2 linked regions of the Homo sapiens genome follow. The protein of the gene in region 1 interacts with the protein of each later gene in a pairwise test. Each region holds a gene or a part of one and is shown on either strand. Other genes may lie near its edges. The genes, in order: DHX9 and ZMAT3.

What was found.
Region 2: the proteins of DHX9 (region 1) and ZMAT3 interact in binary tests that used the Homo sapiens proteins (3 or more experiments, as listed by UniProt).

What each region holds. Positions count from the first base shown.
Region 1 is NC_000001.11:182,845,761-182,849,584, forward strand, and holds part of DHX9 (ATP-dependent RNA helicase A), read left to right. Parts: intron 1-3,824. UniProt on the Homo sapiens protein: Multifunctional ATP-dependent nucleic acid helicase that unwinds DNA and RNA in a 3' to 5' direction and that plays important roles in many processes, such as DNA replication, transcriptional activation, post-transcriptional RNA regulation, mRNA translation and RNA-mediated gene silencing.
Region 2 is NC_000003.12:179,023,107-179,026,930, reverse strand, and holds part of ZMAT3 (zinc finger matrin-type protein 3), read left to right. Parts: intron 1-1,702; coding exon 1,703-1,914; 3' UTR 1,915-3,824. UniProt on the Homo sapiens protein: Acts as a bona fide target gene of p53/TP53. May play a role in the TP53-dependent growth regulatory pathway. May contribute to TP53-mediated apoptosis by regulation of TP53 expression and translocation to the nucleus and nucleolus.

The sequences.
Region 1 (3,824 bases):
GTGTGGCTCACAGAACTCAGGAAAACCTACATTTACCAGTTTATTATAAAGAATACTACAAAATACAGTTGGTGAAATAAGTAGGGCAAGATATGGCGGAGGCAGCAGGGAGCTCCCATGCCCTGCCTCGAACACCATTCTTCAGGAACCTCCACCTGTTCGGCCATTTGGAAGCCCTCCAAACCCTGTCCTTTGGTTTTTATGGAAACTTCATTATTCAGTATTGATTAAATCGTTGGCCATTGGTGACTTGACCTTCAGCCCTTCTCACTTCCCCAGAGGCTGGGAGGTGGGACCGAAAGTTTCAGCCCTCTAATCTTTCCTTGGTGGTTCTGGTGACCATCCCCCCACACCTGAAGCTACCTAGGGCCTGCCAGCCAGCAGTCAACTCGTTAGCATACAGAAAGTCTCCACTTAGGAGATTATAAGGATTTAGGATTTCTATGCCAGGGAAATGGGATTGAAGACCAGATGTACTTTTTTTTTTTTTTTTTGAGATGGAGTTTCGCTTTTGTTGCCCAGGCTGGAGTGCAGTGGCATGATCTCGGCTCACCGCCACCTTTGCCTCCGGGTTCAAGCGATTCTCCTGCCTCAGGCAGGAGTATCTGGGATTACTGGCATGTGCCGCCATGCCCGGCTAATTTTGTATTTTTAGTAGAGACGGGGTTTCTCCATGTTGGTCAGGCTGGTCTCCAACTCCCAACCTCAGGTTATCTGCCCGCCTTGGCCTCCCAAAGTGCTGGGATTACAGGCGTGAGCCACTGAGTCCAGCCAGAGACCAGATAGGCTTTAAAGATAATATGACACTGTCTACTTGCTGTTTTCTGTAAGAAGTCAGCTATAATCAAATCACTCTCTCCCATATGTAATGTGGTAGTCTGTGTTTTTAAGATCTTTTCCTGTTATTTTTGGTTTTTAGTATTTTGTGTTGTGACCGGGCATGGGTTTTTTTGTATGTGTGTGTTCTAACTTGTTCAAGGTTTGCTGAGATTATTGAATCCATAGATTTATGTATTTCACCAACTTTGAGAGACTTAGCTATTATTTAAGATATTTTTTGTTTTATTTTTTCTTCTTTCCTCTTGGTGTTTATATTTATAAAGACTTGATATCCCACAGGTCCCTGAGGCTCTCTTTTTTTTTTCCTATCATTTTTTCCACTGTTTCTCAAATTGAATAATTTTTATTGATTATCTTCAGATTCTTTGATAGTTTTTTCTGTCCCTTCCATTTTGCTAAGCCCACCCAGTGTATTTCAGACACTACCTTTTTCACTTTTAAAATCTCCAGCTTATTCTTTTCTGTATGTTTTCTCTGGTGGCATTTCTTTTCATTCGTTATAAGTGTATGTTTGTAATATAAATATGGATTTCTTTTATGTCATGAAGCTTAATTCTAATAGCTGCTTTAAAATCCTTGCCTACTACTACTAACATCTGAGTCATCTCAGGGTTGGATTCTCTTGATAGGTATATTTTCTTGAGGTTGGATCACATTTTCCTCTTTGTGTATCAAATAATTTTTTATTGCATTCTGGGCATTGGAATATTATGCTGTGGAGACTCTGAATAATGTTATACTCCTCCAAAGAGCATTGATTTGGTTTTTTTGTTTTGTTTTGTTTTGTTTTTAATCAGGCATTTAATTTAACTGGACTCAAACTGCAAATGCTGTCTTTTGGATGTTAACTCAGATCTCACCTCAGTTTTCTGATCATTTAGGACAGCCATGGAAGAGTCCTTCAGGTCTCCTTTGCTGGGCAGCTTGGAATCTGCCCTGTACATGAGTGGTTTTCAAGGGTTAGCCAGAGATTTCAATATACAGAATTCGGGGCTCCTCCTCTCTGGCTGTTTCCTTTCCAGCATTCCCTCACTTTCTAGCAGCTTTGCTTTCCCTGAACTCTAATTCTGATTCTTCAGGCCAAAAAGATGGTTTCATTGGAGGTTTAGCTGCCTGGGATGGCTTCTCTCAGGCTAAAAGCTACAGTAAACTGGAATTAGACCCTTGATACTCCGTGCTTCCCCATTTTAACTTCTCTCAAGAATCTACCTGCTTTTTTCGTTCATTTTTTATTGCCTGCATATAGTTCTGGTGTGTTGTGTGTGTGTTTGTATTTTTTCCCCCTAAAGTTTATTTTACCTGCAGGAGGGTCAGTCTTACAGGAACTTACTTGGCTACAACCAGAAGTAATCCCCTAGGTGATTTTTTTATTATTGTTTTAACATGGCTCAGGTGTTTCCTATTAAATGCTCTGTGGATTTCCTACTTTCTTCCTTATTTCCTCTGTTCCAGCTACAGTAGCTGTACTTCTTCATAGGTCTTCAAATAAGCCCTCATCTTTCTGCCTCAAAACTTCTATACCTGAAGGACTCTTCCCCAGCTGTCCTATTTAACATTATAAACATTGTCACCCTCAGGTTACTTCCTAAACTCCTTCAATGCTTTATTTTTCTCCGTAACACTTACTTTTTAACTCAGTGTTTCTCAACTGGAGACCATTTTGTCCCCTCAAGGGATGTTTGGGGATGTATGGAGATATTTTTGTTGTTGTAACTCGAGGAGGCCACTGACATCTAGAAGGTGAAGGCCAGGGATGCTGCTAATGACCTACAATGCACTTGACAAACTCCTACAACAAAGAATTAACCAGCCTAAAATGTCACCAAGATGAGAAACCTTGTTCCAACGTAATTTATTTTTGTTTCATTGTATTAGAATGTAAGTTCGTGAGGGCAGGGATTTTTTTGTTTTTAGTTCGTTGCTGTGTCTCCAACATTTAGAATGGTTCCTGGTCTATAGCAGATACTTAAATGTTTTTTGGTTGACTGAGTAAATGAATGGATGAATTTGGAAAAAAAAATTATAACAACCCATTTCTACTTTTAACCCCACTGTATTATTAGTCCATTCTTGCATTGCTATAAAATACCTGAGACTGCATAATTTATAAAGAAAAGAGATTTAATTGGCTCACAATTATGCAGGCTTTACAGGAAGTGTGGTACTGGAATCTGCTTGACTTCTGAAGAGGCCTCAGTAAACTTAGAATGATGGCAGAAGGTGAAGGGGAAGCAGGGATGTCCTACATAGCAGGAGCAAGAGAAAGTAAAGGGGAAGATGCCACACACTTTTAAATGACCAGATCTCATGAGAACTCACTCACTGTTGCTAGGATAGCAGTACCAAGGAAAGTGGTACTAAACCATGCATGAGAAACCCACCTCATGATCCAGTTACTTCTCACCAGGCCCTACCTCCAACATTGAGGATTAAAATTTGACATGACATTTGGGCAGCGATACGTAACCAAACTGTTACCAGCTACCATCTTTATCTTACCTCCTCATTCTAGGGAAATCCTTTTTCATAATCACTTATTTCATCTGGAACTTACCCTTTCATGCCATAAATTGCATTTGCCAAAAGTGAGCATGTAGAGGATATTTTAAAATTTTTTTTGCTGTGGACAATTGTAGATGTGTATAAAAGAATAATATAGTGAAACTCCATGTTTCCGTCATCTGGCTGCAACACTTTCAATTTTACTCATTTCTAACTACTCCCCTTTCTTAGATTATTTTGGAGCATCCCAGACATCTTATTCATCTGTTAATATTTCAGTTTTTAACTAAAACATAATTCTTTTTTTAAAAAAAGTATTATAATCAAACCTAAAAGAAAAATTTAAGAATAGTGTCAATATAATGAGATATCCAATTAATGTTTACATTTTCCTGATTTGGTAATGTCTGGAGATGTTTGAACTTGAAGGAGGTGTGTTGATGGCGTCTAGTGGGTGGAAGCCAAGGATGTTAAAAACTATG
Region 2 (3,824 bases), on another chromosome or scaffold:
TGCTTCTGATATACACATTTAGTTCACAAACACTGATTTATAGGAATAAATTCTGCATTTTCTGATTGTCTTCAGTAGGGAGAGTGGGCTGAGTAGTCCCTCACCCTCCCCTCTACTTCAGCCTCTGATTCATGCACATGCCAGCAGAGGTCATTTACTTGAACAGTGAAACAAATAGAAAACAGAGCTAACTGAAAAGCCAGAGAAGCCTACTAAAAAAAGGACATATAGAAAGCACAATTCAGGCCAGGCTCCTGTGGCTCGTGCGTGTAATCCCAGCACTTTGGGAGGCTGAGGTAGGTGGATCACCTGAGGTCAGGAGTTCGAGACCAGCCTGGCCAACACGGTGAAACCCCGTGTCTACTGAAAATACAAAATTAGCTGGGCATGGTGGCATACGCCTGTAATCCCAGCTACTTGGGAGGCTGAGGCAGGAGAATCGCTTGAACCTGGGAGGTGGAGGCTACAGTGAGCTGAGATTACACCACTGCATTCCAGTCTGGGTGACAGAGCAAGACTCTGTCTCAAAAAAAAAAAAAAAAAAAAAAAAAGCACAATTCATTATGATTAAGAAAAGTCTAAACATATATTAATAATTGTAATAAATGTAAAATTACCAAAGTCCAAAAAATGTTAAATTGGATGAAAGAAATCCATCTGAAATGAAAGAAGCTGGGATAGCTGTATTAATATCAGAAAAATAAATTTTAGGATAGATTATGTTCTCTGACCAGAGTACAATGAAATGAGATGTCAACAACAAAAATAGAAAAGCAAACAAAATTTCCATTTGTTTTCCAATTTAAAAACACTTCTAAATAACTCATGGTTCAAAGAAACAATTATACTGGAAATTAAAAATTCCTACAGTGAAACAGTAATGAAAATATATTAACACTTGTAGGATGCAGTGAAAGCAGTATTTTGAGAAAAGTATTACCTATATATTATTATAGTGGAAGTGAAAAGCATAAAGTTAACGAACTAAGCGTCCAGCTTATGAGGTCAGTAATGTAAAAAGAAGAAAATGAAATGATCAGTAATGTCACCAACACTTTTGCAGATTTCATTCTAGTCTCTTCATATGTATGACTTCTTTAAAATAGAAATGGGATCCTAGTTTGGGATATTCATAGTTTACTTAATAGCGTAAGAGTTTTCTATAGCATTATTATATTTAGCAATGGCATAGTTTTCCATTGCATTCATTACCATACTTTCTTTAATCCTATTTTTGAATCTCTTCTTCCCCCTAAATTTTTGCTTTTATAATCACTGCTGAGATAAACATATTGCTATTAAATCTCAGTGTGAAAATTCTTAGTATTTTCTTAGGATAATTCTTACAAGTAGAATTTTTGGATTAAAGGGTTAGCATAAGCATAAGACTTCTGATATAATGCTTGGAAATTAAAGTATTTTTAAAAGCGTATTCACTTTTTTAGAGACACAGCCATTTGGAATTTGGGTTTGGCTCTACAGCAATTTTTCTGACAATGGTTGGAGGAATCATTTTATCTTTTTAGATCGAACCTGTGTAAAATTGTAATTTTAAAAATCCATTAACTTCACATTCACTTAAAGCTAAGAATCTGTGAATTTTATAATTTGAACTTAGAATTACAAATTACAGTGATAATTGGTCAGGTTGTCATTCACTTAATGAATATTTTGAATATATTATTTTTATCTCTTGCTTTAGCAGGTCCTTACTTCAATCCCCGCTCTCGGCAGAGAATTCCACGTGATCTGGCCATGTGTGTTACTCCAAGTGGCCAGTTTTACTGCTCAATGTGTAATGTTGGAGCTGGCGAAGAGATGGAATTCCGGCAGCATTTAGAGAGCAAGCAACATAAGAGCAAGGTGTCTGAACAGCGGTACAGGAATGAGATGGAGAATCTGGGATATGTATAGTGATTATCATATTAAGATAGAGCAGCTTTTCCTGCCTGTTGTTTGCCTTTTGTCAACTTGCCCTGCTTTGTGGTCTTTTTGATATGAGTACATTCCTCTGCTTAATGTTAATACATGTAACCCACAGTGGTACCATGAGATGTCAAAACCTGGGGGCCCGGGGGCGGGGCGGGGGGAGGTGGGTGTGAAGAACGTGCTTCTTAGGTCATAACGCTTTTGCAGGGTCAATGGTGTTGAGCCGCTCATAGCATGTGACCTACCTACCCCATCAGAAATAACTTTTTATCTTGCTCAAGTTCTGGTCAACTAGTAGCCTGACGGCTTAGAACTTTGACTATTTAAAAGTTTCATTTTCTTTTGCAATTTTAGTTTTATGTACTGTTAAAGAATTGTACTGAATTCTTTTTAGATCACAGTAAAAATAGGTTGGCAGAGATTTCAGTTTCCCAGGGCTTAACCAGAACCGCCACCTCAATGCATTGTCAGTAGAATACATTATTAGAAACTGTTAAGGTCTTTCCCGGGACATTTTTTTCTGCCATTTTCTTTTGCAATTGTAGTTTTATGTACTGTTAAAGAATTGTATTGAATTCTTTTTAGATCAAAGTAAAAATAGGTCAGCAGAGATTTCAGTTTCCCAGGGCTTAACCAGAACCGCCACCTCAATGCATTGTCAGTAGGATACATTATTAGAAACTGTTAGGGTCTTTCCCAGGACATTTTTTTTTCTGTATCATGTCTCCCCATCATTGAAGCGCAAATTTTCTTGAATTCAAATACTCCCAATGAGCTTGTATACTTCCAAACAGCTAAACTTGATTTCCAGTTGTGGATTTCACACATATAATTGCCGCCTTCTTCCCTCCTCTTTTTTCCCCCCTAGTTGAATCAGCTTGTCTAACAAGCCCATTTTCATGCCCCAGCTGTGCTGTGGGTTTTCCAAGCCTCATATTTGAATATTCAATGAGTTTAAGATGGATATGATTTCAAAAAATAGGGCCGGGCGCGGTGGCTCACGCCTGTAATCCCAGCACTTTGGGAGGCCGAAGCAGGCGGATCACGAGGTCAGGAGGTCGAGATCATCCTGGCTAACACAGTGAAACCCCATCTCTACTAAAAATACAAAACATTAGCCGGGCGTGGTGGTGGGTGCCTGTAGTCCCAGCTACTCTGGAGGCTGAGGCAGGAGAATGGCGTGAACCCGGGAGGCGGAGCTTGCAGTGAGCCGAGATCGCGCCACTGCACTCCAGCCTGGGTGACAGAGCGAGACTCCGTCTCAAAAAAAAAAAAAAAAAAAAAAAAAAAATATATATATATATAGATATATTTTCCAGCAGTTTTTAGGAAACAAAGGTGTGTTTGATTTTCCAATTTAGAGTTACTTCATTGATAGTAACATGCGCTTATATCATGATCTAAACCATAAGTTCAGATTGCTTGATATTTTGTTTTGCCAGACTTTTTTGATAATCTGATTCTTACGGTTTACTTACATTTTCCTCTGTCTTGCCAGTCTGGTGGCCATCCTGAAAAATATCACCACCTGCTGTTTTATACACAGAGGAATTTTTTAAAAAGCAAATAAAGTTTCACTATCTTCGTTTCCAGTAGAAATATACACGAACTATGGTTTTATTCTTTGTAATTCGGCTTTCTTGAAGATACTAACAAGTATATGATAGATCACTTTGGCATCTGATAATTATATCAGTATTATTATTTTTGTTTTTTTGCGTTTAAAATAAGAAGTTGTATGAACCCAGGAGGTGGAGGTTGCAGTCAGCCAAGAATCGTGCCACTGCACTCCAGTCTGGGCGACAGAGCAATACTCCGTCTCCAAAAAAAAAAAAAAAGAAGCTATAATATATATCTAGATTAACTAATGGAGTGCTCTGTGAATATTCATTAAC